5 separate regions of the Homo sapiens genome follow, and all the other regions are linked to region 2. Evidence: fine-mapped expression QTL. A gene starts in region 2. Each other region holds a variant in brackets. All regions are shown on one strand. Distances are from middle to middle.

Evidence for each region.
Region 1: its variant is fine-mapped to the expression of INSIG1 in whole blood (INTERVAL, PIP above 0.99).
Region 3: its variant is fine-mapped to the expression of INSIG1 in whole blood (INTERVAL, PIP 0.97).
Region 4: its variant is fine-mapped to the expression of INSIG1 in blood mononuclear cells (TOPMed, PIP 0.99).
Region 5: its variant is fine-mapped to the expression of INSIG1 in whole blood (TOPMed, PIP above 0.99).

Annotation. Positions count from the first base shown.
Region 1 is chr7:155,261,198-155,266,968 of GRCh38, forward strand. LOC105375588 (a long non-coding RNA gene) reads right to left here and starts at 5,482. Exons shown (of 5, transcript XR_928227.3): 1 at 5,404-5,482; 2 at 4,247-4,884; 3 at 3,262-3,488; 4 at 2,262-2,410; 5 at 1,696-1,735. The variant T/C (reference allele first, on the strand shown) is at 2,114.
Region 2 is chr7:155,294,939-155,300,709 of GRCh38, forward strand. It overlaps INSIG1 (insulin induced gene 1), which reads left to right and starts at 2,940. Exons shown (of 6, transcript NM_005542.6): 1 at 2,940-3,021; 2 at 3,321-3,759. The coding sequence starts at 3,348. INSIG1-DT (INSIG1 divergent transcript) reads right to left here and starts at 4,042. Exons shown (of 2, transcript NR_183448.1): 1 at 3,213-4,042. RefSeq lists enhancers at 1,936-1,985, 4,396-4,465 and a silencer at 2,446-3,275.
Region 3 is chr7:155,271,417-155,277,187 of GRCh38, forward strand. No RefSeq gene overlaps it. Among named protein-coding and RNA genes, the nearest start is that of INSIG1, 24 kb to the right of the region's middle. The variant C/CTTT (reference allele first, on the strand shown) is at 2,578.
Region 4 is chr7:155,254,539-155,260,309 of GRCh38, forward strand. No RefSeq gene overlaps it. Among named protein-coding and RNA genes, the nearest start is that of INSIG1, 40 kb to the right of the region's middle. The variant T/C (reference allele first, on the strand shown) is at 3,289.
Region 5 is chr7:155,203,206-155,208,976 of GRCh38, forward strand. It overlaps LOC124901783 (a long non-coding RNA gene), which reads left to right and starts at 2,499. Exons shown (of 2, transcript XR_007060603.1): 1 at 2,499-2,622. RefSeq lists enhancers at 2,061-2,240, 2,251-2,300, 2,331-2,400, 2,431-2,680, 5,610-5,771 and a silencer at 5,754-5,771. The variant C/T (reference allele first, on the strand shown) is at 3,434.

The DNA.
Region 1 (5,771 bases), 34 kb before region 2:
GACGAGAGCATCAGTTGCCCTCACTTTAAGGTCTCAAGTTCTGTACATTCTGCACATTCCCAGAAAAGGTTGGTCACAGCAGCCTACAGTATTTCAGTTTAGCGTATTCTTCTGTGTTCAGTGCATATTCCCAACACGGTCTAGAACGCCCTTTACTTCACAAGCACAATTCCATAGTAAAACTTAATAATGGTGCTCTGGGCCAGGCCATTTGATCTGGCTGGACTGTGTTCCCTGGCTGTGCCCTGAATGTGTCACCTGCAGCCACACAGGGCGCCCTCTCATTCTTGCACTGACCCAGCTCCTAAACAGCAGCTTTCCAGCAGTGGTTCCTGGACTTCCAGAGAGCTTTTCTGCCACAGTGGACATTGCCATCCTTTTTTTGGCCACCAGGCATCTGAAATCCTTCCCAGTGTTTGGTGAATCCTCCAACTCGTGACACAGGATCTGAACGTAGCTACACTACATTCAGAAAGTGCAGAGGCCAGCACTCGCTTTGCCCACAGGGGCACTCGCACCCATGAGCCTAGCTGCAAGCCTACCCTGCCGGGAAGCTAGTGACTCCCAGAACTCAGACGGCTCAGACACCACCCTGGATGGCCACGCCGTTCCCATGGGCAGAGGTGTCAGCAGGTCTAGCGGCAGCCTGCAGCCTCTAGCCTGAGGTCCCTTCTGTGTGTGCAGCCAGTAGTGCTGGTGGTAGAGACTTCCCTGAGCGGGTCCCAGTGTCCTTTTTCCCAGCATCTTTCTCGCTGTGGTAGGCTAGGAAACTCGTTCTCCTCCCCACGCCACCTCCATTCCTTGAGCTAGACAATATATAATTCTTTTAATAATCGCTTTAATAATTTAAAGGAATATTTAAATACTCTTTTAACAATTCCTTTTCTGCTTCAGTTACCCAGAGCTGTGTTCTGCCACCTCCCACTGAGAACCGTAAGTGGTTCTTTCCTCCGTAAGCACATACTCCTGTTTGACATGAAAATGTCAGCAGAGATTTTTCGGCGTGATCTAAAGAATGCGATCTTGGCGGCCGTCTACCACACAAGGAGGAGGGCACGTGTGGATTTCCTGGCCTTGCACAGTTGGTGATGAAAGCGGAGTTGCCTAGTGATCAGCTGACTTGTGATCAATTACAATAATGATGGAATTTCAAGGTCAATGTCGTGCTGGTTTTTTTTTTTTTGCGAGCTCATCTTTTCTGCTTAAGGAGAAAATGCTAGATAAATGCATCTCCATGTGGGCCTGGACCTCTCCATGTTGCTCTGTCTTGTCTGTGGATGTTTGACAGAGACCGGAAGACCTGCAGACCAGCCTGCCAACACCGTCTGTCAATGGGGTGCCACTTTCACGGCCCTCCCCTTCCCATCAGCCTTAGCCCAAATCACCCTCCAAAATCACCAACCATAGGAAACATCTTTAATGTAAACTAATTCCTTCACACTGAAAATGTTTACAATTTAGCTGGGTGCGGTGGCTCACACCTCTAATCCCAGCACTTTGGGAGGCTGAGGCGGGCAGAAGGCTTGAGGTCAGGAGTTCAAAACCAGTCTGAGCAACATGACGAAACCCTGTCTCCACAAAAAATTTAAAAAATTAGCTGAACATGGTGGCACATGCCTCTGGTCACAGCTACTTGGGAGGCTGAGGTGGGTGGATTGCTTGAAGCTGGGAAGTTGAAACTGCAGTGAGCCAAGATTGCACCACTGCACTCCAGCCTGGGCAGCAGAGAAGGACCCTGTCTCAAAACAAACAAACAAAAACCAAAAATGAAATAAAATGCTTACTGTCGGCCCCCTTTCTCTGCAGAGGTCCAGATGAGGAGCCTCTAATCAAGGTGGTGACTGGGCCACACAGCCACGCCCTTCCCTCGGGGTGAGCCCTTCCCTAGGGGTGAGCCCTTCCCTGGGGTGAGCCCTTCCCTCGGGGTGAATCTTTCCCTTGGGGTGCACCCTTCCCTCGGGGTGAGCACTTCCCTCTGGGTGCAGCCTTTGCTCGGGGTGAGCCCTTCCCTCGGGTTGAGCCCTTACCACAGGGTGCGCCCTTCCCTAGGGGTGAGCCCTTCCCTCGGGGTGAAACTTTCCCTTGGGGTGCGCCCTTCCCTCAGGGTGAGCAC[T/C]TCCCTCTGGGTGCAGCTTTGGGGTGAACCCTTCCCTCGGGGTGCAGCCTTCACTCAAGGGTGAGCCCTTCCCTGGGGGTGCAGCCTTCGCTGGAGGGTGCATCCTCCCCTCGGGGTGCGCCGTGGCACATGTTGCCTCTCCACTCACTGCTCTTTCTTGGCTGCCTCCTTCCTGGTGAGTCCTTTCCCGCTGTTGCTCACTATCTGCGGATTTCTGATCACTTGTCTTCCCTCTTGAGCTTGGTGAACAGACCAGGAGGAGGGCACAGGATGACCCCCATGGCTCCCCGAACATTTCTAAGACCAAAACCAAAAAGCCCAAGGGGAGAGGACCGGACCCCACTCAGGGCTCAGAAAGCTGATGCCTGGCGCCCCGCAGTGGCGTGGGGTGGTCTTGCGTGGCTGTGGACCCCTCAACCAGGCAGGCGAGAGCAGGGAGGGAAGTGGGTACAAGTGAGCAAGTGTGTGAGTGTGTGGGAGTATGACTGTTAGTGTGTGTGTGTCTGAGTGTATGTGTGACTGTGTATGTGTGTCTGAGTGTTAGTGTGTGTGTGAGTGCGTGGGAGTTTGTGTGTCTGAGTGTAAGTATGTGTGTCTGAGTATATGTGACTGCGTATGTGTGTCTGAGTGTTAGTGTGAGTGTGTGTGTCTGCGTGTTCGCGTGTGTCTGAGTGTATGTGTATGTGTCTGAGTATGTGTGACTGTGTATGTGTGTCTGAGAGTTAGTGTGTGTGTGTCTGCATTTAGTGTGTGAGTGTGTGTCTGAGGGTTAGTGTGTGTGTCTCAGTGTTAGTGTGTGGGAGTGTGTGTGAGTGTGAGTGGGTGTCTGAGTGTTAGTATGTGTCTGAGTGTTAGTGTGGGAGTATGTCTGAGTGTGTGTATCTGTTAGTGTGTGAGCGTATGAGTGTGAGTGTGTGCATGCTGGGAAGAGACATGGGCTAAGAATAAAACACTTTCCCAGAGTGTAGCAAATAATAGCAAAGTTCACCCATCAGTTCTCCTGCCTTAAGCAACTATGGGCTTTCACTCTTCAACTTTCTTCTCTCTCTCTCTCTCTCACACACACACACACACACACACCATGAGACCTCTTCTGAGCTCTCCTGGCAAGGTTGGGCTCCCTGCTGCCCCCATATCCCCTCACTTACACCAAGTTCCGTCCCCCTGACTGGAATGTTTGGGGTGAGAGCCCCTCCTTTGTCCTATTTGCACCAGCGTCAGCTGAACGTGTTAGGAAGTGTGACCGCCGCCTCTCATGGACCCCAGAACAACCTCCTGTTCGCACAGGGGCCCACTCCTAATCTTCTGGAGTTGGCATCATGGGAGATGACCAAACTCTCCTGAAAAGTCTTGCGCAGTACCATGATCAATAAAACTAGGAGAGTATAACAGAACGCTCTGAATTTGGAGCCAGAAAACCTTGATTCAGGTCCTTCATGTGGCCTTGGGCAAATCACTTAACCTTTCTGAGCCTGTACCCTCAACCGTATCTTCCTGTTTCTTAAGATCAATGTGAGGTTTAATGATAAATAACTCTTAAAAGGGCTTTGCATCATGCTTGGGCATTTTGGCTATTCAAGAACCTCGCGCTGCATGAAGAAAGATGCATTCTGTGTGACTCTGGAGGCTTTTCGAGCAGAGAGAAACAGCAGGTTCACAGGTAAGAACCAGGAAGGCCATGTGGGCTGGGAAGATGGTGAGGCAGCTTTGAATGCAGCAGTGGTGTGGGGGCACAGGGTAGGGGGAGGTTAGATATGCAACTGACTTCAGAGTTTCCTTCTCAGCTTCCCTGGATGGGAGTTAGTGTTAGGATCATAAGTCAGAATACAATTGGGATCGTAGAAATTTCCCAATTCTAGTCACTCTGTGCTCAGGTACAACTACTTAAGCACGATCATTGTCTCGGTCCAGGACACATCCATTCACACATGCACACACACACGCCATGTGTGCACACATAGGTATATACAAGCATTACATGCACACACCCCCACATGTATATACACATATAGACACACATGCACACACCCACATGTGCATGCACACACCCATAAACAGGCACACACGTGTGAGCACAGGCATAAACATGCATACACTTACGCACACACATGCATACATGCCCCTTAAACTCACTGCAGAGTCTGAAGAGAGGTTGTTGACTTGAGGAGCAGCACTGTGCGTTTAAATGAGGCAAAAGAAAGTTGACCACCCCCAGCCTGACCAGGAGTTGTGGTTGGCCAGGAAAATAATATTTGGAGCTCATGAATAAAGAAGTCATGATGACTGAGATGGGGGCACTCGTCTCCACCCAAGGCACCTGCCAGGCAGTTGCATCACTACCTCGCCCCTGTGCCCCAGGGCTGTGAGCCCTCCTGGCTGCCAGCAGTGCCTGAACTCAGAACCAACAGGACCTTGGGGCACAGCTCCGTGGCCCTTTCAGTGACCGCCCTCTTCTTCCTCTTGCAGCCCTCGGCTTGTTCCTCCTCCTGCTCACACTTCACCCTTCACCCTGGCTGACCTGCGTGTGCCAAACACGGTTGTGAGCTCCCACAGAACGAGGAGAGGCAGCCCGTTCCGCTGCATCTCCCCAGGGCACCGGCAAGGACAGGCAAAGCCTCGTTGACTGAATTCACGGAGAGCAGAGACTGCGCCCAGGCCTCGACCCCAGGACTTCTGTGTTGTGTGAGACGTGCTAGTGATGCCGCTTTAAGCTCTGCTTTGAAAATGGTCCTTTGACAGATTCTGAATGCAAGTGGCCTCCTTACGAGATCCTGCAGAATAACAAGGACAACTTATCACAACTTCCTCATTGTAAAATCCAGCTCAGATTGCAGTTGAAGATCACAAATGCTCTCTGTTTCACTTTGCGATGTTTGTGGTGTCTAATACAGCAACACAAGCCTAGGTTTCTGTGCAAAGACTTCCTTATTGTTTATTTACTATCCACTTCCTCTGAGCAGGACTGATCGACTTTTCACTTCTTAGGCCCCTGGTGGGTGGCCTAACATTGGGAACGTCTCTGGGAATCAATGGCCTCCCATGCTATTGCCCTAAGAGGAAAAACTATGGACCCATTTCCGGCTCGTGAGTTGGAAGTGGAGGTCTGCTGGCGGCCTTTGTCTCCCTGCCTTCCCCTCCTGTCACTGGCTGGAACATGTGCTTGATGCCTGGCGTTCAGCAGCCCTGTTGAAACTGTGAGGTGACTGGCAGGTGTCAGAAGGAAAGCAAACTGCCTAGTGACGGCAGAGGCTGCATGCACTCCACTGCCCTCTGCTCCACTGTCCACTCACCTCCGCTGGCTCTGTGCCCCAAGGCCCTGGCCTCTATGGCCGGCATCCATGGGCTTCCCTATCCTCTGGCCTCCAGGTGGATTCAGTCACAGCAGAAGCTGGGAGGGGCAGCTGGAGGTTGGAGAAACATGAGGCTAGTGTCCAGTTCCCTCCCTGGCCGAGGCAGCCGTGGAGGTGCTCCTTTCCAGGAAGCCAGCACTCCTTTCCGGTGGTCCTGCTCTGACCACGGCAGCTCGAGCTGAGCACAGAGTGACGGCTACAGCTCCCTCCACATCTGGCCTGGGGTGGGAACAGCTCCTGGATGCTTCTTCTTCCTGTGCTGGCATCCCTTAGTCCCTCCCACCTTTTTTTTTTTAATATAATAAACC
Region 2 (5,771 bases):
AAAATGTTAACAATGGTCATCTCTAGTTGGTAGGATTATAGACTATTTCTTTAAAATATATTTTTCCACGATGTTTTACAATGAGCATGTGATGCTTTTATATGAAAAAATATATATTTGGTAATCTACTTTATCTTAAGAATATTTCTTACAAATGGTTATTAATGTTATAATAAAAAGAACAGTAAGAACAGACTAAAGGCAAGATTGCTCACTACGTGACACCTCCCAGTCTTTAGGCCTTTATGAGTGCATGATTCTTCCGTATCCGAAAGAGCTACAGCCGTCCTGTGCTCCCTTCCGCCAGCCTGTTCAGTACAGAGGCCACCAGTCTGAGGGTTACTTAGTGATCTGGGAAGGCACGGCGAGGTGTTTAACTCAACAATAGTCAACTCCCCTAGAGTAAGGCCACATCTGTGATGATTTCTGTATTGTGGGGCAATTAAGAACTAAACGGTGCCATCATGAGCAGATTTCCCTAAATGCTGAACTCAGAGTGGCTGACAGGGGCTGAAGAGAATGAACCCCATTATCTTCAACACACGGCCCACGATTAGCAGGGAAACAAAATCAACAACAGCTTTGCTTGAGGATAAGCAAATTTCAACCCCTGAAAATCTTGGAATGTGGTTACTGATATGGAGGCTCGGTCTTCAAAGGGGGTATTCAAGGGGGTAAACTCAAACTCTCCCACTGTCTTTACCCCAGGCTGCATTTCTTCATGGGGCCAGACTCCACAGGCACCTGGGCAAACACACATTGGGAACGCAGTGACAATCTCTACCTACGACTCAGAGGCCACGCTGGAGGCCCTCAGCAGGAACCCCACGGGCAACCTTCCCACATTCCCACGGGACATCTTGGTCGGTGTAAGTGCAACAGCCACAGAGCCACAGGGTGCCTCTATGACTCCAGGATCTTCCATGGTTCATAATGTCCCAGTACAGATGAGAGGAGGGACAGAGTCAGAGAGGCTGGGTTGTATGAACACTGGTTTATTAGGTAGATAGGAAAAGAAGAATGAAGTCAATAGTCTTTAGCAAGCCAACTAGCTCAAGGAATAGACAGCCCCTTTCCATTCTGGAGACAACACATAAATCTATTAATATTAAATATTGTCATGAGGTATGCACCTGCCCACAGGGGTATTATGATGGAAATACTGGGGTAGTCTGCAGGGCCAGGTACAAATGACGGGAAACAAAGCCAGAGAAACTGAAATACCTCTTGGACCCCAGAAGACAGATGTACTGATTTCTGGGATGTCAGGAGCCCAGTGCAGAGCAGCTGGATAGGTCGCTAAGAGCTTTCCCTTCTGCTTATCGGGTCTCACACACCTGGATAAACCAGTTATTGAAAGCTGACCTGCTAATGAGAAGCTTCTGGCACTTGCTGGTGTTTCCTAATTGAATGGGTGACTGCCCCGCATCTCAGGGCCGGGGCTCCCGTGCGGACGCCTCTCCATGAGGTTAGCAGCTTGATTTAGATCAGCGTGCGGGACGGGGAGCTCACAGTGGGGTCGAGGAGACACAGCACAGGCTTCTGAAAGGTGCCCTGTCCATTAGGGAGCACCCCATTTACAGATGGGTCATCCTTCAGCTCACTAGTTTCCCAGCGCATGACAGTGGGTAGCTTTTTTTTTTCCTATTATAAACAAATCTTCGATGTGACTGCGATGATCTACGGATGATCTACGTATCTGGTTGTGTGATCCTCAAGCACTTATGCAAGGTGGAGTGTAAACAATGGCCAAGACCCAAACTGCAATGTTCCCTGAAGTCCAACCTGCTTGGAGTCCTTGGGAACGTGTACAATGGTTAACAGGCTTGAGAGGAGTCAGCTGGGAGAGTGAGAGCGAGACTGCCCTGCAGAGGGGCCGCTGAGGATGGACCCCTGTAGGCCGTCCACACCCACCACGCGTGTCATCCTCAGGAAATGCAACCGGATGCTCGGAATTTCGCCCCTAAAGCGACTCAGGGCAGTCTCAGCTCAGGAAGACTTCTTTTTTTGACCTTCTGGCTTAAAGCCACAACCCCAGGCTGAGGATGCCACATCAACGGCGTTTCCTCGCCACGCTGCAGGCGTGACTCACGTTTCTAAGCCTGCAGGGTCCCCGGGCCAAGCGCGGCTACTGAGAGCACAGCGTCCTCCCTCAGCCCCTGCTCATCTGCACGGAGCAAAGCCGCAGCTTTCTCTGCTGTCAGCGCTTTATACGACTCGGATGTAGGCTCTGAGCGGGCACGGGCCCGCCCTCAGACGGCGACCCGAGGGGCAAACAGGATGGAGGCGCGCTCCCTTGGAGGCTGTGGTCTCGATTTTATCTGCTCCTGGGTGGTGCGGGTGGTTTGCTCTCTAGGCGTGAGCAAAGGCCACAAGGGGCCCGAAAAAATCACCCAAGGATGCAAGCCCGCCATTGCGCTGAGCAGGGGCCTCCCCGCCGCCAGAGCCCGCGCCCCTCCAGGGAGGCCCGCGCGATCGAGACCCGCCGCCTCCCGGCCAGGCGCGGGACACCAGGCGAGGGGAGCCAGGAGCCGGGAGGGGCGGCGCCGGGCCCGCAACCCCACCCTGTCCTGCCTCCGCCTCCTCCCGGCAGGACCGTCCCCTCCCAGGCCCCAGCTCCGCGGCCGCCCACTCGCAGCCGGCCAGTCCCGCTCGGGCCCGCGTGCCCCGCAGCCGCCACGCGCCCCGCAGTCCGTGCCGAGGCTCCCGCCCGAGTGCGCGCGGGCCGGCGGTGGCGTGTGCGCACGTCATATGGGCCGCCGGCCTCCCATTGGTTGCGGCCGCCTCACCAGACCGCGTGCGGACGGGCTCGCGGGCGGGGCGGGGCAAGCTCAGGCCACGCCCCTGGGCGGTGCGCGCGGGCGGTGGGTAGGCCGGGCAGGCTCACGTGATGCGGGCCCCGCGGCCCGCCATATAAACCCGCGCGCCCGCCAGGCGCTGCGGCCGTCCCGGGCCGTGACTCCTCCTTTCCCCCGCCCCGCCTCCGTTCGGAGAGCCGGCGGGCGGGCGCCTCTCGGCCAGGTACGCGGCCGGCTGGGATAGGGGTCGCGGGCGGGCTTTGGTCGCGCAGCAGCCGGTCCTCCCCGGAGGTAGGCGGGCGCGGGCCCTGTTGGGTCTTTGGGACGCGGGTCCCGCTGGGGCCGGGGATGCTGCTCGCTGTGAGCGCGGGTCCCGTCCGCCGCTGGCCCCGGGCGGGCGCACGGGGGTCTAACCTTGGGGGGCGGCGCTGCCGCCTGGCCCGGGTGCCGGGGTTCGCGTCCCGCGGGGCCTTCCTCGCTCTTTGTCTCTTCTGAGTGAACTTGATGACCCCCTTCTTCCAGGAAGCGCCTCTTGGACGCGTGTGACCGATGCCCAGATTGCACGACCACTTCTGGAGCTGCTCCTGTGCGCACAGCGCGAGGCGCCGAGGCCCCCCGCGAGCCAGCGCCGCGGGGCTGGCGGCCAAGGTTGGGGAGATGATCAACGTTTCCGTGTCCGGGCCCTCCCTGCTGGCGGCCCACGGTGCCCCGGACGCTGACCCCGCGCCCAGGGGCCGCAGTGCTGCGATGAGCGGCCCCGAGCCCGGCAGCCCCTACCCCAACACCTGGCATCATCGCCTGTTGCAGAGGAGCCTCGTGCTCTTCTCGGTTGGGGTGGTCCTAGCCCTGGTGCTCAACCTGCTGCAGATCCAGAGGAATGTCACTCTCTTCCCCGAGGAGGTGATCGCCACCATCTTTTCCTCCGCCTGGTGGGTCCCTCCCTGCTGCGGGACAGCAGCTGGTGAGTACCCCTCCTGGTTCTTCTGGAAGTAAAAAGGGTGTCTTTTCGGTTGAAAGTACTTTTCAGCCTATAAGAAACATGCATTTGAAACTGGAACTATCCACAGATTGAAAGTGTGCATCTCCAGTCTTGGGATTTAGAGAAATGAAGGAGGGGTAGAGAGGACCTGGCACCCCCGAGGGCGGGTTCGGGCCACAGCTCTCTGAAGTTTGAGGAAGCACAGTGATGGAGATGAGGCAGGGAGATAATTGGCTGTTCAAGCAGGTGCTGTGCCAAGCTGACTGAGGGCCCTTCCCTCCTGGCGTCCGGGTACAGCCCCAGCTGTCATCCCGCGCCAGCCGCCCCGGATTGGCCGCCTGGGGAACTGGTGAGCAGCGGGACTGAAAGGCCATTGGTCGCGGCAGCAAACATGCTACCCTGCTGGATAACTGAAAACAAACCCGTCACATGGGTTCAGGAGGCGGTTGCCAGGGGAGCAACTTCTCAGCACTTCCTTTTGCCGGGTCGCTGAGTAAACTGTGGTCTGAAGCCAAACCGCCTACACCCTGAACTGTTAGAGCTCTGTAGATTACGTTCTTAAGGAAAAGAGTAACCCCCTTACGGCGTTTAGATTTTCGTACACCCAAGCAGTAGCATAGATGCTGTACAACGTAACACTGAGTCAGTCTGAACTGTGGACACGGGGACTGCTGGGTGTGTGTACTAGACTTTCTTGGCTATCATTGAACCGCTTTTATAGAAATGTTGAGTTGATCTTGGCTCAGCAGATCACTTACTGCTCCTGTAGTCACACAGCATTTGTTTATTTAACGAGCTTGTCGGGTGCTTTCTGCAACCTCAACTCTATAAGCTGTTGAAATGTTAATCCAAAAGTGAGCACCACAAGCCCCTATCCTTAAGCAGCTTAGAGTCTGGTGGGGAAAACAAACCAGTATGTCAGTGACTCCAGTGCAGTGCAGGGAGCATCCTGTTTGCTTTGTGGCTGACGTTTGTCAGCTGACTGCTGACCATAGGCTTCAGATGCTTTGCTGTGTTCATTCCTTACAGCAATACCATGTGTAGCTTCATTTATAGATGTGGCAACTGAATCACAGGTGAAGTCACATCCAAGGGTGCGCAGGTAGAAAGGGGCCAAGCCATCGTTGGTAACTGCTCCTGCTGCCTTGGTAGGTGTGTCTCCTGCACTGTGGAAACACATTGCCTCAGTTGACTCACTGAAAACAGCAAGCAGCAGAGAGGTTTGTAGCAGATTAACAGAGGGCTCCGTGTTGAAGAACTAGGACAGGTGTCTGTAATTATTAAGTAGTGGGTAGAATGTTTTCATATTTGTTCTCGGAGGGACGGGATCCTCTTTCGTTTTTCGAAACACTTTATGTGGCTGTACTAATTGAACATTTTTTGAGAACTATATCTAGATTTAAAATTCCATGTTTCATATACATTTGGCAGAATAGTTTCTTTCCTTTAACCAAAAACTTGATCTTAGAAATGAAATAGTTTAGCCTTCAGTATTTGTAATTGGATCCTCAAGGGTTTCTAGGAATATCTGGACAATTTCTCATACTCTCATATTCTACTTTTTTTTAAACCATCAGCCAAGAGCATAAGTAAAATTTTTCATAGTATGTTTTTTACCTATTTATTTATTAAGCTATAGTGAAGTAAAGTTAATTTGGGGGGTCCATTTTTCAGAACTCCAAAATTAGAACCTGATGAAGTATAATAAATTGAAAACAACATTTTTTATCTGAATGTTTGATGCAAACTGTGTTTCTTGTTTCTCAGTTGAACCTAAAATGTATATTTCTTTCATACTACACTGAGGTGAAACAATTGCAGGGTTCTCAAGAGCCCTGGGACACAGTGACCCTTGTGTCCCAGCATCCAACCCCACGGGCCGGCACCCCACTCCCCCCTACAGACATTCATTCCTGCCTTCATCTTTGCCATTTTACTTCTCTTTTGGAATGCCATTCCTTCCCACCTGTCCAAATTCCAAGTTCGTGTCTATA
Region 3 (5,771 bases), 24 kb before region 2:
CAAAATAAAACAAATGTCACACTGGGTCAAAACCATCATTCTGTCTTTGATGGGAGTCCCAGGGGATATTTCTTAGAAGAATATGATGTCATTACGGAGGCTAAGGCTGCACTCCAGATATTCAGTTTTCTATCAGATATGGATTTATTTAAAACTTTCTTGAATGAACTTATTTTTCTTACTTTACGTAACAAGGTCAAAAAGGTAAACCTCTCAGTGTAAAGAGGTGTAAAACCTTTTTCAAGAGTGAATACATTCCTGTCTTAAAGAAAAAATGAATTAACAATCGATCCCACTCTCAAAGGAAATGATAAAGCTATACTTCATTCAAATGGAAAAGTTGGCCAGGTGTCGCGGCTCCCACACGTAATCCCAGCACTTCTGGGAGGCCAAGGCGAGCCCCCATTTTGGGTGTGGGCAGGACTGAGAGTCCCTTCCACATCATGGAGTCCGGGAAGAGCCAGTAGTGACTTTACAGTTCACAGTGGGGACTCTGCCAAACGCTGCCTTCCCAAGTGGTAAAGGCCAGGTTCAGCCGGGATTGATGTTGTGGGTACCAGGACCCCTGGATACTGGGGGATGAGAGGGAACCTCACCTCTGTAGTTTTCAAAACTCCCACAACCCCAGTCTAACGGTGAGAGAAATGTCAGACACTCCCAGTTGCAGGACATTCTATGACACACCTGCCCTGTCCTCCTGAAAACTGCCAAGGTCCTGAAACACAAGGGAAGCCCAAGCACCTGCCCCAGAGCAGAGGTGACCAGGGAGACACAGGACTCCTCCTGGACGGAATCCTGGAACAGAAAAATCCGGGCAACCCAAACACTGCCTAGAGTGCAGATGACCGCATGCACCAATATTGGCTTCATAGTTTTAACAAATGTGCTATGTCGCAGTGGGTCATGCCTCTCATCACAGCACTTTAGGAGGATCACGTGAGCCTAGGAGCTCAAGACTAGCCTGGGCAATATAGTGAGACCTCATCTCTACAAAAAATCTTTTAAAAATTAGCTGAGCGTGGTGGCATGCACCTGTAGTCTCAGCTACTTAGGAGGCTGAGGTAGGAGGATCACCTGAGTCTTGGAGGTCGAGGCTGCAGTGAGCCATGATTGTGCTACTGCACTCCAGCCTGGGTGATAGAGCTAGATCCTATCTCAGAAAAAAAAAAAAAAAAAAGATAACATCAGGGGAAACCGAAGACATATCTTTTCAACTTTTCTGTAAATCTAAAGCTATCTCAAAATGAAAAGATTTCTTAAACACTATGAGAGGAAGAAAAATAGATTACTACAAAGGAACAAAATTAGACTGAATTCCTGTCCATAGGAACAAAAAGATGACAACATAATGTATTCAGAGATGTGAGGGGAAATAGCTACAAGCCCCTAATGTTGCACCCAGCTGAATTCGCACGCACGTGATGGCAAGACTAAAAAGATTTTCAGACGTCTGAAAACCCTGAGGGTTTATCACCTATGGCTGCTCTCTGAAATAACAAAGGATGCATTTGACCAAAATAAGCAACAACCCAAAGTGAGGGATGAGGCACAGTATGTTGACAAATGTGATTAAAGATTGGCTGTGAAAAATAGCACGAGCCAATTAATAGTGCTTGTTAAAAATGATATAAACTTGCACCTGGTCAACAACAGAGGAGGGGGTTGCTCCCTGCCGCGAGGGAGTGGGCTGAGGTCCTTGGAGTATCTTGGAGGAGGCCTGGATGGTGCACGTTCTGGTCACCCCGCCCCTCTGACCAGAGCAGCTCTTTCCTAGCTCGGCTCTACCTGTGACACGTGCTGATTCGGGACCACAGAATCCTCAGATACAGGAGCAAGCTGCTGTTTCAAGCTGCCATTGGCTTCTGGTTCAGCTGGTATCACTGTTAAAGCAGAATTCCTACTGTAAAAAGTCTGACCTTTGTGGGGAATGGACAGGGGTGGACCAGGGAGGACCGTGCATGGTTCCTCGGTTACTCAACGCTGAAGCTCAGCTTACCCTCTGCAATGGAGAGATGGAGGCTCCGGGGGCCTATCCGCTCTGCCTGAGGATGTGGAAGGCTGCCCCCACCCTGACTGTGTGTCATAGTTTGTTTTATGCTGTTCTAACAGAATATCTAGGACTGGGTAATTTATAAAAAACAGAGATTTGTTTCTTACAGCTCTGAGGGCTGGGAAGTCCAAGGCTGAGGGTCTCATGATTTTTGGGGGCCTTCTTGCTGCATCATCCCACGAGCAGAAGGCAGAAGGCAGAAGGCAAGAGGGCATAAGAGAGAGATGGAGAGAGGGAGCTGAACTGGCTTTTATAACGAACTCACTCCCACGTAGCATACACACTCCCCCAGGGCTGAATCCACTCTCTTGATGAGGACATTAATCCAATCTCAAGGGTAACGTCTTATGACCTAATCACCTCTTAAATGTTCCACCTCTCAACAACGTTGCCCTGGGGCTTAGGTTTCCAACATATGAGCTTTGGGAGACACATTCAAACCACAGTCCAGTGTCATATTGATTGGGGGAAAGAGGCCAGGTGAGCTTCAAGGGTCCAGGGCCGGGGGAGAATGCCCAAAGTCTTGC[C/CTTT]TTTTTTTTTTTTTTTTTTTTGCTCCTCAGCTTATGTTTTCTTTTTCGCAATGTAATTCCTTTCAATTTCCCATAAACTCCTCAGCTTATGTTTTCTTTTTCACAATGTAATTCCTTTCAATTTCCCATAAACTCCTCAGCTTATATTTTCTTTTTCACAATGTAATTCCTTTCAATTTCCCATAAACTCTCAGTAAAAATGTCTTATCTGTGAAAACCTGGGTGTGCTGTGTTTTCAGGAGTTAAGACAGGGGTGGGCTTGGTGAGGTGTGGGGTGAGAGGCCTTTTGAGGGTGAGAAGCCCAGCCGGCAGCAGGGAGGGGTCCTGGAACAGGTACATCTTCCCTGAGAATGGGCAGAAATATTTGCAGAAGGAACCCTGGTCAAAGGCTGCACCTCCCTTATTCATGAAAGAGGGTCTGGATGAGGTCATAAGGCAAGTTGAGAAAATGATCGGCCAGGCACGGTGGCTCACACCTGTAATCCCAGCACTTTAGGAGGCTGAGGTGGAAGGATCACTTGAGCCCAGGAGTTTGAGACCAGCCTGGGCAATATAGTGAGAAACCCGCCTCTACAAAAAATAAACAAATAAAATGGTGGCAGGAGGGCTGGGGAATGTGGGTATGTGGATCATTTACGAAACAGGTGTCAGTTAGCATTTCATTAGAAAAAAAGGTTTCCTAAGTTTACTTTTTAAACATGTAAACTCCTGCTAAGATTATTTCTTAAAGCACATGAATGGATTCAGCCCTGGAGAGAATCCCAAGCTGGCTGGAAGGAGGAAAAAAATATTTTTGAGAGCTAAAAGTGCCAGAAAGATTGAGAAACTTTTTTTTGCTTTCCCTCCCAAACAACATTTCAGGTGGAACAGTGAGTTTTTCCACTTGGTCTTTCCCTTCTTTCTTCTAAACAAAAACGAGCTTTTAAATTGATGACACTCGATATAGAATCAAGACAACAGAAGTTGATCCTATGCCAGCAAATATGTTCTGGAACACTCAAAGCTTTGGAAAATAAATCAGTATTTTGCTTTTCTCAGTTGAGGTTAGGAAGAGAGAACACTTTGTTAAAATGTCAGTAACATCTGTGTTGCAAGGCAGTCACTGACACCAAACACCACTGTGTTGTTGACATCAAACCCCACGCCTGGAGTCCTATGTGCCTCCATCTGTGCCAACCAATGCTTCCCTGCCTGCAACAACCAGCATGTCAAAGACCTGTCCACTGAGAAAGCATTCAAATTTGGGGCATCGATCTATGAACACATCATCAGCCCTCAAATCCTGGGCCTGAAGGACTATGGAAAGGGAAAGAGGAATCCTGTCTGTCTCCCATTCCTGTGGTCCAGTTGGCCCCACCTAACACTGGTTTGGAGCAAAGCAACTCCAAGCTCCAGGGAGTAGTGAGCATCATTGAAGGAGGAATTTTGAGCACCTTTTTGTGCCAGGTATGGTGGGCAACCCAAAGATGACTAGGACATAAATTCAGCCTTCAAAGGATTTATAGTTCAGCAGGGAGGTTCACAAATATTACTAATACCAGTTAATGAGCTTGTAAGAATCAAAAGAAGTGTAGTAGCAGGCCAGGCTCAGTGGTGCACGCCTGTAATCAAAGCATTTTGGGAGGCCGAGGCGGGCAGACTGCTTGAGCCCAGAAGTTTGAAACCAGCCTGGGCACCATGGCAAGACCCCGTCACTATAAAGGATACAAAAATTAGCCAGGTGTGGTGATGCACGCCTGTAGTCCCAGCTACTGGGGGGGCTGAGGTGGGAGGATGACCTGAGCCTGGGAGGTTGAGGTTGCAGTGAGTCGAAATTGCGCCACTGCACTACGACCCCAGGCAACAGAGTAAGACCCTGTCTTGAAAAAAAAAAAAAAGTGTGGTAGCAACCATGAGTGGGAAAAACTGTCTCCTTCCAAGGAGACCAGGGTAGGGCAGTTGAGCTGCACCACGGATAATGTCGCAGTTCTCTCGAGCCTCATTTCTAGAAACACAATTTTAAATTAATAAAAGCTAATTAAATCAAATTTTTGCTTAGTAACATATCACAGTACATAGGAAACTGGGCACACATCTATCCTAATATTTAATGCCTTATGATCACTAAGCGTTTCCTGAAGCGATTCCTTTAAGTGAGCTCCCTGAGAGCAGAAACTGAGCATCGGATGCAGCGTCTAGCCCAATAATGTGCCGACGGAGTGTTTGATTATCTTCTGTCATAAGCACGTCACATGATGCAGATGCTCCATGGTTCAAGGGCTCTCCTGATTTCCCAGTTCACAAGGAAATACATTACAGATAAGGATTTTTAAAATCGTCTCCCAAACTGGCTTACCAACGTCTGAAGGAAAGAGATCCAGGGAAAAGGGAGAGGAGGCGGAGAGGAGACAGCATGATGTATGTTTCTGAATGAATGTTTTTCCGTAGAAGTCTATGCTGACTGAAATCGTGCTCACGTTCTCATGGGAGACAAAGAAAACACACAAGGCAGGTTGCGTCATTTGTGACACGGGTTTCCTTAAAGCCCACTTCTCAAAGTGGGGTCCACAGGCCCACAGCTTCAGCCTCACCTTGGAGCTTGCTGGAAATGCAGAAGCCTGGGCCCCACTCCTGACCTGCTCACCTGCAGAATCTGGGTACCGAGGCCCCAGGGGCTGTGAAGGCACGATTCGGTTTGAGCATCAGCTTCCACTTGCAGATGCCACCGTATCTTAACACATGTTCAAAGAAGCTGAGGGGATTGCAGACAGCCACCTGCCTCCAAGTGTACTGCCCCACAGCCATCCAAAATGACAACCCTGCAGGCTACTTGCAGTGGCCGGTGAAGCCCAAATCTCTGGGAAGAGGGCCTCCTTGGCCATATCCCAAAAGGTTGACTTTCTTTAACTTGCTGCTGTTGGACCTCTCTCAGTTCGGGAAAGGAATACTGCAGGATAAATCAATAATGCTGAGCCAAACAAATACTCCTGACGCAGTCACCACAGGTCATGACCAGAGAGGACAGGAACAGGGAAGCCTTCCAAACCCAGCAGGGAGGACAGTCCGCACCCTCCAGCCTCGCCTTGAAGGACCTGGTGCCTGCAAAGCCATCACAGCTGATCGAGTAAATCTGCTCTGCTGTGTTTGAATACCTTTAATTGCTGTAACCACAATTTTACCTTGAGAGAAGGCAGAATGGGGGATGGGGAACTGCA
Region 4 (5,771 bases), 40 kb before region 2:
TGTGCTGGAGCCTGGTTTCTGGTGCAGGAAAGTTGTAAGAATGCGTTCCCTGCCATCTCGTTTCTATTTTGAACTATCTGGCCCAAACCCTTTTCTTTAGTTTTCTCCTCTTCCCTTGGGGAAAAAGAAAAGGAGAAAAAAGGAAAGAAAAGGACAAAAAAGAAATGGAGAAGAGAAGCAAGACAGAGGCTGCTCTGAAATGGTTTCTGCACCTTCTCCAATACAAAGGGCAGTAAGATTGAGTAGGATGAGACAGCTATGACTTCCTATTCCCTTTTCCCAGCCCCCAGGCTAAAAAATATGGTGGGTCTGAGGTTCTACTCCCCAACCCCGGCCAACGCTCAAGCCTAGACAAGAGTTGGATGCTCCACGGGAGTAACGTGAGACCCAGGAAGGCCACGTCTCATTTTAACTTCCTCTCCTCTATTCCATACCACAATCTCCGGGGAGCTTCAATGGATGGAGAAAGTTCTATGCCTGCAAGAACTGAATTTACCATCAGTGCCTTCATATTTGTGATAACCTTGTTTTCCCGTTCCTTCAGGGATGCTGCGCTGAGTGAAGATCTTCATGAATACCGTGTGTGAGGCAAGTAAAAGCGGCTCCTTGTGGCTCATTCGCTGCATAAGGTCCCATTCAGAGACTCAAATCCAGAAACTAAACATCATTGAAAAGGAATCCTAACCTCTGGTGCTCCTAACCAGGAGCCGCATTTCTCTAGGACCTCTGCCTTGGCCTTTCCAGCGCCCTGTGCCCACAGCGGCCCTGCTTGAGCCAGTCATAAGCAAGGCCCCCAGCTCCTCCCCAGCCCCGTCCCTCTGGGCTCTTCTATTTCCCCGCCCAGAGGAAAACATTCCCAGCTATACAGAAGCAGATGGGATGGGGGTTACCAGGGAGGCTCCAGAGAAATGGGGAGATGCAGGTCAAGGGGAGAGAGTCGCAGTGAGGTAGGAGGAATCAGTCCAGAGGCTGGCTCGCAGGAAGATCGCAGTTCACAGCACTGCAGCACACCCCGGGACTTCACCAGGAGAGTAGATTTTAGACTCTCTTACCACCAAAATGATGAAGAAAAAGAAGAAGAAGAGGAAGAGGAAGAGGAAGAAGAAGAAGAAGAAGAAGAAGGGGAAAGGGGAAGGGGAAGGGGGAGAGGGAGGGGGAGGGGAAGAAGAAGGGGAAGAGGAGGAAGAAGAGGAAGAAGAGGAGGAGGAGGAGGAGGAGGACCGGGCGGTGATGGATTTGAGAACTTGCCTGACTGTCTTAATCACCATGTCTATGGATATCAACACAGCAGGTCATAAATGTTAAAAATCACGTCCACCCTTAAACATATGCATTTCTTAAAAAGGAAATGCGTCACCAGCCACATGTGTGAGTCGAAATTATCTCATAGACACATTTGTAAAAAGTAAAAGAAGGATGAAACTTAATATTATGCTTTAACCGAGTACATCCAAAATATCAATGAATTACTTATAAGATACATTACTTTTTTTTTCTAAGCAGCCTTCGAAACGCCGTGTGCCTCTTCCACTTGACAGCATGTCTCCATTTGGACTGGCCACATTCTCAAAAGCCGCAAGTGGCTGAGGACTGCCACGGAGGCCACACAGCTCCAGTCCATTCTACTGGTTGTTATGAGTTCAGTGTTAGTGCCGCCCCCACCCCCCAAAATTTGCATGTTGAAGTCCTAACCCCCAGTGTGATGGGCTTGGACATGGGGACGTCAGGAGATAATCAGGGTTCGGTGCAATCCTGGTGATACAACCCTCGTGCTGGGACGAGTGCCCTCATGAGAAGAGGCCAGAGGACTTGCTCTCCTGCCACGTAAGGACACAGTGAGAGGGTGGCCGTCTGCAGCCCAGGAAGACCCTGACCTGCTGGCACCCCGATCTCAGACTCCCAGCCTCCAGAACTGGGGGACATGACTGTCTGTTGTGGAAACTCCCAGTCTGTGGTATTTTGCCACGGCAGCCTGAGCTAAGACACTGGCTTTGCATGGCGAGAGCCTGCAGATGATCCAGCAAAAACAAACTGTCCCTAGCAGGCCTGGGGCAAGGGGGAGGACCGAGCAGACCCCATATCCAGCATCACAGGGTTCGTGAGTGAGCTGTTATGCTTGGTGTTGTGTGCAGAGATTAAATGTCCACAGTCTCTGAGTTCACGAGGCTTATCATGTCATGAGGGACAAGACGATAACTCCGGTTTATGCCTGCGTTACTACTTTACCCACTTTCTGTGCGCATGGAAAATGACAGGAGAGCACAGAAAAGCACCCGTGTAGCCCAGAGATGGACACAAGTGCTAAGGAATCCAGATGGAAATGGAATGACTTCGGAGTAGGGTAGAAAGAACCTACTGCTACTATTATCTACTCTTGAAAACCTAAAAGGTTCGGGGGTTTTTTTTGAAAGGCCTCTCCCAGCACAGATAGGAATTGTGTCCATAGTCAAGGGTCACTCCAGCTTCTGATGCTGCAGCTAATATGATTGGACTTTTGCCCAGATTGTTTCGAATTGCCCCTGGGCCACATATTAATTTGTTTCAGATGCTACCTTTTCCCACTGTTAGACATAAAAGAATCAAAGTGAAAAAACAAAGATGCAAAGCCCTGGGATTGTTAAAAAGTTAATTGCTCAGTGTTGGCCTAAATGACAGAAAAGTCCCCAACTTCCTCAAGGTCAGAATTTTACGTGTAAAAAAGGAAACCTTGAGAATTTAGAAAACACTTGCCTCAAATAAGCATCATTAGCCATTGCACCAGTGGCTTCTACACACCAGGTTAAGCCACATCAAAGAACTCCCACGCTCCTAGACCCAGAAAAATAGAAGAAAATAATTAAACAAAGTAATTGGAAGCGCCTGGCAAGGTCAAAGTACCAGGAAATGTCCTTGAGTAAAAAGAAGCCTGGGACTAAGCTGAGCACATCTAAAATCTCTCATATCCAAAGCCTGTATTTTCCTTGGCACGGGAGATGGAGAACTTGATCCTGACCATTGACAAGGAGGCCAGGAGGCTAAATCCGCCACATGCAGGCTTCCTCCTAATACCCTGACGGGACTTCCGGCTTCTGTAAACTTCTGTGGGAAGTAGGCACACGCCGACTTGGGGAAAGTTGACCAGGGTAAGCCTAGAGGAGGGACAATATTATAAACTGTGTGGAAGGTCCCCTGAGACGTTCACAGACTCAGAGGGAGGAGCGGCAGTGCGGACTTGAAAGCAATCCAGGCGGAGCTGCCAAGAGGCTTAGCCACAAGCACGGATCCAGCCACAGAGCTGGGGCGAGGCTG[T/C]GAGGAGCAAGCCGAGCCATGGCATGCCGCTCGGTGGTGGGGGAATCTGGCGGCACTGTCCAGGAAGAGCCCCTCTGCCTCCCCGGAAAGCTCCCACCGATGATCCACTGAGATGCACAGACACGACCCAGAGGCCGGCTGGGCTGATCCCACACGTGGCTGGTGGCCAAGGGACTCAGCCGTCCACACCCAGCCACACACAGGAGGCTCGTCCTATGAGACCCTCCTAGGATCCTCGCTCCTGATGTGTCCTCATTCGGCCTGAGCAGTCGCGGCCATCTCGCCTCAGGCTGTCCCCATCTTGCCTCCTACCCACCCCCACGGTCTCCCACTGGCTCGAGCCCCTGCCCTCCCCAGGTCACTTCCAGGTCTGTCTCCATCTGGCTGTGCCACTGTGCTCCCAAGGCCTCCCCAGGGAGCCGTCCCTGCAGGGGACATGTGGCATGGTTTTGCTTTGTAGTCGTGATCTTGGAGAGAGACACTATGCCCTAATCTCAAAGACAGTCCCTAAGGCTGTGAATGTCAGGCCCTTACCAGGCCTGGTGGTAGCAACTATTTCAGAGTAGGCACATTCTTTGGGCTCCTTCCAACCACACGCATGAGTAACACTGGGCCTGCCCAGGGTGAAGATCCAGTGGAAGACATCATGTGGATGAATTCAAGCTGGAAAATAATCCCAATGACATGAATATTTCAACCTAAACTTTGATTTGTACCACAATTATATTTTTTCTGATTACAAAAGTAATGCAATGGCATTGTAAGGGATTAAAGCCTTGTTTTATATGTATATAATTTTTTTTTTTTTGAGACGGAGGCTCGCTCTGTCGCCCAGGCTGGAGTACAGAGGCGCGATCTTGGCTCACTGCAAGCTCCACCTCCTGGGTTCACGCCATTCTCCTGCCTCAGCCTCCCGAGTAGCTGGGACTACAGGCACCCACCACCATGCCCGGCTAATGTTTTGTATTTTCAGTAGAGATGGGGTTTCACCGTGTTAGCCAGGGTGGTCTCAATCTCCTGACCTTGCGATCCACCTGCCTCGGCCTCCCAAAGTGCTGGGATTACAGGCGTGAGCCACCATGCCCGGCCTATATGTATATAATTTTTGTAGACTTGTTCTTTCAATATACCTCCAGGAAGAAACACAGCCTAAATTTACATGAATATGTTTCTGGACTTCTTTCTTCTCCTCCTCCTCCTCCTCCTCCCCTCCTCCTCCTCCTCCCCTCCTCCTCCTCCTCCTTCCCTCCTCCTCCTCCTTCCCTCCTCCTCCTCCTTCCCTCCTCCTCCTCCTTCCCTCCTCCTCCTCCTCCCCTCCTCCTCCTCCTCCCCTCCTCCTCCTCCTTCTTCTTCCTCCTCCTCTCTCTCTCTCTGTCTCTCTGTGTCTCTCTCTCTTCTCTGTGTGTGTGTGGATGTGTGTGTACTCACACAACAGAGCTCTGGAGATGCATGCAGCACACGCATATGTAGATATAACCACTATAAGGACAATATCCTAAGAGCTGAGTGTCCAGGTCACTGATTTTCCTTTCCTTGTTTCGTTGCAAACTCAGGGTGTCACACCTGGGCCGTGTGGAGGCTGAGGGATGGGTGAGGACAGATGGGGATGGGCACCCTGCTGTTGTCTGAGGGCCGTCAGCAAGTCTCTCAATTGGTGATACGTATGGACCTGGGTCCTCATGAGAGCCATCCTAATCTTTTCTCAGTGATGCAACACCGTCTGTTTCCATGCCATCAGTCTTATTACAGGATGATGGCCAAGGAGCTCATCTGAACTGCCAGGTGAACAGTGGGGCCCTACCACATCCCCATCTACCCATAGCTTGGTTTGGGTTCACGGTGCCAAAATCATATCCCCAAGTTATAGTATAGGCTCATTGCCAAGGGAGTTTTCTTGTAAACACTCCCTGGCCCTGGGAACCCTTCTCTGACCTAAAGGAGGCATCGCTGGACTAGGTTCCGGGTAATGCAATCACCTAGTGACCCGTGTCCCCAGCCTGTTCTCAGGTCCTTTGCATTTTCCTCAATGTCCTTCCTGCTCATGCCCTCAGGCCCCTGCTTTTGGGATGTGTGGCCAGCAAGCCCAGTGCAGGAAGTACTGAGCTGCCGACTGCCACTCCACAGAATCACAGGACAGAGCCTCCCAGAGGCAGTAAGTGCAGCGTGGGCTGGAGGAGGCCACCTGCTCCGTTGTGATGAGGGCTGGCCTCTGCTGTGCTTTGATTTATGAGCAATCATGTGTTCACAAAGTACCTACTACTATGTGACCAGTGCAGCAGCCAGCAGGGTCTGCATAACAGTGGCTGCAAGCTCTCCACCCAGACTCCTGCCCTCGTCCATGGGGATGAGGTTGGGGCAGCCTCCATGCAGTTAGCACCTCCTTCCACTCTCCCCCTCCAGCCAGCAGGAGCCACAGTGGGCCACAAGGAGGACTCTGCCCTGAAAGTGGCAGATCCCAGCCCAGGAGAACCTGGGTCCCTGGA
Region 5 (5,771 bases), 92 kb before region 2:
GGGAGTTGGTGGTTGATTCCCAAGGGTCCTCATGGTGGAGTTCCCCCTCCCTGCTCTCCCTTGGCCCTGTGGGTGCATTTCCTGGCCTAGGGCTTTGTGGAGTGAACAGTGGCTCCTCCTGCTTTTGTGGGCCCCTAGCCAGTGAGGTGAGGCCAGACCTCCTGAGGGGAGGGTCCCATGTCCCCAGAGTCAGGGGTCGGGGTCAGGGGTTGAGGTCAGTGGGTCAGGTGGGTACATTGCAGTCAGCATGTACTCAGGACTGCCTGTGACCCAGAAAAGGCTTTCTCAGGCCTATTCCCACCCGCACCAGCCTGGAGAGAGCTCTGTCAGGCTGAGGTGGAATTTTCCGGAGCCCCGGGGGCTGTGCAGGTGCGGGAGGGAGAGTCTGTCAGGCTGAGGTGGAATTTTCCAGAGCCCTGGGAGGAGGATTCCCAGCATCAGGTGAGCGGTGACTTCTGACGCACTGTGGAAGCTACAGGCAGGGCTGAGTCGGCGGCAAGGAGCAGGACCTCCTGTTAGAAAGTCCCAGAAAGAAACAAACCCTCGGGGACCACCCAGAAGGCCAGGATCATCCGAGGGGCCGCCCCGTGGGGTCTCCATGGCTGCACGTGCATCCTGAGGCCCAAGTCCTCCTCACAGTGGCTTCACTGGGTGCTGGGACTCTGCAGGGACCGAGCTGTTGGTGCTCCAGCATTCAGGGAGCTCCTGCCTTGGGGTGGACAGACAGCAGGTAAAGAAGCCTCATGCAGGGCAGCAGGGGATACCCTGGGAAGGAAAGTGAGGCAGGAAACAGACACTGGGCCAGTGGCTCCTGGTGAAGGGATGGGCACTCGGGGATCTCGGGGAGGGTCCAGGTGAGGACAGCAAGGGCAGAGGAGCCTGTGGGAGGGGTAAGCACGAGGGAGGCCGAGGCCCTGAGATGTGAGGCCCGCATCCTGCTGCAGGCGCTCTGCCTCCAGCAAGAGGTGGCTCTGGGGGACAGCTCTCCATGGGGGACAGCTCTCCATGGGCTTGGACACCCGTGCTCCCAGACAACAGCTTCTGCCGTGCTCCCAGATGAGAGCCAGAGCCCTGCCTATCGGGAGGCCACACTCATGCCCAAGACTTCTAGGCCTCAGCAGTGCTCCCAAGGGTGTGGCACCAGGTGAAGCAGGGCAGGTGTGTGGACCAGGTGTGCTGGGGGGGCAGAGGGAGGGCAGCACCCCGTGGGCCAGCTACCTCTTGTGTGGGCACACAGCACCTGTGCACTCAAGGTCACCCATGTGCACGCCGCCTCTCCACTCCTGGCAGCAGCCACCCTCGCACCATGTGGCTCTGTGTCCTGGCTCCACAGGGCTCCCTGCTGCTGCCAGGAGCAATTCCTGGAGTCCAGCATGTGGAGGTAGCAGGGCCTCTGCTGGCTTTGGGACTGGACCAGCAGCACTGCAGGTGCCCTGGCTCTCCCACCTGGGCACACCTGAGGCCTCTCGCCCTTATCTCCCAGGGCCCTAGCGGTTCCCCTCCACCATCCCATCCCAAAGCCTCACCTTTCCAGTGTAGCCCCAGGCCCCAGAGCAGGTGTATCCACTTTATTGTACACACAGCATTTGACTCAGAGCCCAAGACATGTATCTGATAGGAATAGGGCTGCTCTGGATGAGGGAGGGGGTGCCCAGCCCCCCAGCCTGGCTCCCCAGCACGCCCACTGCCCTGGCTCTGCGGAGCACCTTCCAGACCATATCAGAAGCCCTCAGGGAGGCCCCTGGACCCTGACATCCCCGAGACCCCCTGAGGGACCCACTTTGCTAGCTGCATGTCTGTGTCACACGGAACTGTCTCCATGCTCTGCAAGCAGGTGGAATGCAGGAGCAGGCAGGAAAACCCAGCTCTTCCAAGTCAGACACTGGAGAGCTCTGCAGACACGAAGACAATGCCATGCCTCCCCCTAAATGCTTTTTGTTTTGGAAAATATAGCTGTTCGTCATAAGGTATTTACGTTGACGTATGACAGGTTTATGATTGTTTTAATGAATTAATAGGTATTTTAAATGCTCTTAGTTTCGATTTCTAGTGTTTCTCATTGGTGATTTCTAACGTGGCATCGTGGCTGCATTCAACCCCCATAAACGCATGCTCCGTGGTGGCCTCCATAGCTCTTCAGACCCAATGTGTGAGTCCCGGGCTCCAGATCGTGTCTCAGCCCCTCCCTGCTCCCTCAGCCAATAGCCTGTGTCCGTGTGGCCCCTCCCCCGAGCTTCCCAGTGACGGAGGAAGGCAGACGCCGCGTGCTTTCCAGGCGCTGTCCTAAGCCCTTTGCAGATATGGAGCCACTTGACCCTCCTATAACGCGTGCAGTGGGTCCTATTACCCCCCCATTTACGGACCAAGGGCAGGGAGGTGGAGACACTGGCTGGAGGCCGCGCAGCAGGGAAGTGGCAGTCAGGAGGCAGCCCAGGCCCTCCCATCCGACTTCAGAGGCCAGACGCACGCCTTCTAGACGCTGACTCACAAGCCAAGTCACTCCTTCCTGACACTCACGCCACCATGTCCTCCCCAAAGTGCATTTGCATTTTAACAGCCATCTTCCGTGAGCTGACTCTGTGGTTTTCAGTCAGTGGTTTCCAGTCGGCTATTTGTCATAAGGTATTTACGCTGACGTATAACAGGATTATGAGTGTTTTAATGAATTAATAGGTATTTTAAATGCTATTTAAATGTACTACCTCAAAAGGCTGAGAAATGTGGGGCCTCTGTGTGGATGTGTCAGTGTGTGTGTCTCTGTGTGTGTCAGCGTGTGTGTCTGTATCAGTGTGTGTGTCTGTGTGAGAGTGCGAGAGTGTGTGTCCGTGAGAGTGTGTCAGTGTACGTGAGTCTGTGTGTCGTGAGTGTGTCTGTGTGTGCCCGCGTGTCAGTGTGTCTGTGTGTGTCAGTGTGTGTGAGTGGTCGAGAGTGTGTCCGTATGTGAATGTGTCAGTGTTTGTGTGTGTGTGTCAGTGTGACAGAGTGTGTGTGTTTGTGCCTGTGTGTCAGTGTGTCTGTGTGTGTCATTGTGTGTTTCTGTGTGTGAGAAAGTGTGTGTCCGTGTGTGTTAGTGTCTGTGTGTGTGTGTGTGAGTGTGTGTGTGCACGCATACACACGCATATAACTCTGCTGTGGCTTCTATAACAAAGTACCGTGGACCGAGCAGCTTGAACAACAGAAACTCCCTTCCCCGCAGTCCTGAGGTCCGGAAATCTGAGATCACGGCGTGGGCAGGGCTGGTTCCTCCTCAGGCCCCTCCGTGGCCTGCAGACGCCATCCTCTCCCTGTGTCCTCACGTGGTCATCCCTCTGTCAGCGTCTGCTTCCCAACTTTTTCTTCTTAGTCCGTTCTCACCTGGCTATAAAGAAGTCCCTGAGGCTGGGTAATTTATGAAGAAAAGCGCTTTAATTGGCTCAGGGATCTGCAGGCTGTA[C/T]GGGAAGCGTGACGTCATCTGTCTCTGGGGTGGCCTCAGGAAACGTCCAGTCATGGCGGAAGAAGAAGGGGAAGCCAGCTCATCACAGGGGGAAGCAGGAGTGAGAAAGAGGAGGGGGGATGTGTCACACACTTTTAAAAGACCAGGACTCCTGTGAACCCAGGGCTCGAGCTCACTTATCACCAAGAGGCTAGCCCAGCCATTCATGAGGGATCCACCCCCATGATCCAAACACCTCCCTCCAATCCCCACCTCCAACACTGAGGATCACATTTCCACATGAGATCTGGGCAGGGACAAATACCCAAACTGCATCCTAAAGACACCGGTCAGATTAGATTAGGGCCCACTCCAAAGCCCTCATCTTAGTTTAGTTACCTCTTGAAAGACCCTGTTTCCAAATACAGCCACATTCTGAGGTCCTGGGGGTTAAGACTTCAACATATGGATTTGGGGGATACAACAAACGCCATTTGGGGGTCACAGTGACTGAGGGTGCTCCTGGATTTTGTTGGGGTGATGGTTGAGCAAGGTTGCTATTCACCCTTCAGTAGGTAGGACACCCCCCCAAGGGATATCTACCCAGCAAAACGCCAACAGTGTGCTCTCTCAGGAAGACTTCCTGAAAACAAAGAGCCAGGTAGAATCTCAGCACACGGCAGGTCGCTGGTTGATGTTTTCAAGAAGCAGCTTTGGGGGTTTCCTCAAATCCATCCAATGAGATTCCATCTCTTTTATCTGAGCATCTAGGATGTTCAAGGAGAAACGGCTCCGCTTTTTCCTGCTTCTCCAGGAATCCAGCTTAGTGGGTTTACCTGCCTCTGTCCAAGGTGCTCCGTTGTGAGTAGCCCCTGCCTCTGGGTGTGCAGGTGATTTGGGGACTGAGAGCTGAGGCGCTAAAGTTAAAATGGCTTAACGTGTGTGACTGTGTGTGAATGTGTGTGTGTACGCGTGTGTGCGTGCGTGTGTGTGTCTGTGTGTGGGAATGGGTGTGAGTGTGTATGAGTGTGTGTGGGAATGGGTGTGTGTGGGAGTGCATGTGTGTGGGAATGTGTGGGGGAATGGGTGTGTGTGGGAATGGGTGTGCGTACGTGTGTGTGTGGAAATCGGTGTGTGTGTCTTGTGTGGGAATGGGTGTGTGTGTGGGAATGGGTGTGTGTGTTACAGTGTGTGAGTGTGTGTGTGTGGGAATGGGTGTGAGTGTGTGGGAATGTGAGTGTGTGTGTGGGAATGGGTGTGAGACTGTATGAGTGTGTGTGGGAATGTGTGTGTGGGAATGTGAGTGTGTGTGGGAATGGGTATGTGGGAATGGGTGTGAGTGTGTGGGAACGTGAGTGTGTGGGAATGGGTGTGGGGGGAATGTGAGTGTGGGCATGTGAGTGTGTGAGTGGGAATGGGTGTGAGTGTGTGTGTGGGAACATGAGTGTGTGGGAATGGGTGTGAGGGGGGAATGTGAGTGTGGGCATGTGAGTGTGTGAGTGGGAATGGGTGTGAGTGTGGGTATGAGTGTGTCTGTGTGTGGGGAATGAGTGTGTCTGTGGGGAATGGGTGTGAGTGTGTGTGTATGACTCTGTGTGTGGGAATGGGTGTGAGTGTGTGGGGGGAATGTGAGTGTGTGGGAATGGGTGTGTGTGTATGAGTGTGTCTGTGTGTGGGGAATGGGTGTGTGTCTGTGTGTGTGGGAATGGGTGTGAGAGTGTGTGTGTGTCTGTGGGGGAATGGGTGTGTGTGTGTGTGGGAATGGGCCTGAGTGTGTCTGTGTGTGGGGGGAGGGAATGGGTGTGTGGGGGGAATGGGTGTGTGTGTGTCTGTGTGTGGGGGAATAGGTATGAGTGTGTATGTGTGGGGGGGAATGGGTGTGTGTGTGTGTGTAGGAATGGGTGTGTGGGGGAATGTGAGTGTGTGTGGGAATGGGTGTGTGTGGGAATGGGTGTGTGGGAATGGGTGTGTGTGTGGGAATGGGTGTGAGTGTGTGTGGGAATTGTGTGGGGATGGGTGTGAGTGTGTGTGGGGGAATGTGTGTGGGAATGTGTGTGTGGGGATGGGTGTGAGTGTGTGTGGGGGAATGTGTGTGGGAATGTGTGTGTGGGAATGGGTGTGAGTGTGTGGGAATGTATGTGGGAATGGGTGTGTGTGGGGGAATGGGTGTGTGTGGGAATGTGTGTGTGGGAATGGGTGTGAGTGTGTGTGGGAATGTGAGTGTGTGTGGGGAATGGGTGTGTGGGGGGAATGTGTGTGTGGGAATGGGTGTGTGTGTATGAGTGTGTCTGTGTGGGAATGGGTGTGAGTGGGGAATGTGAGTGTGTGTGGGAATATGTGTGTGTGTATGAGTGTGTCT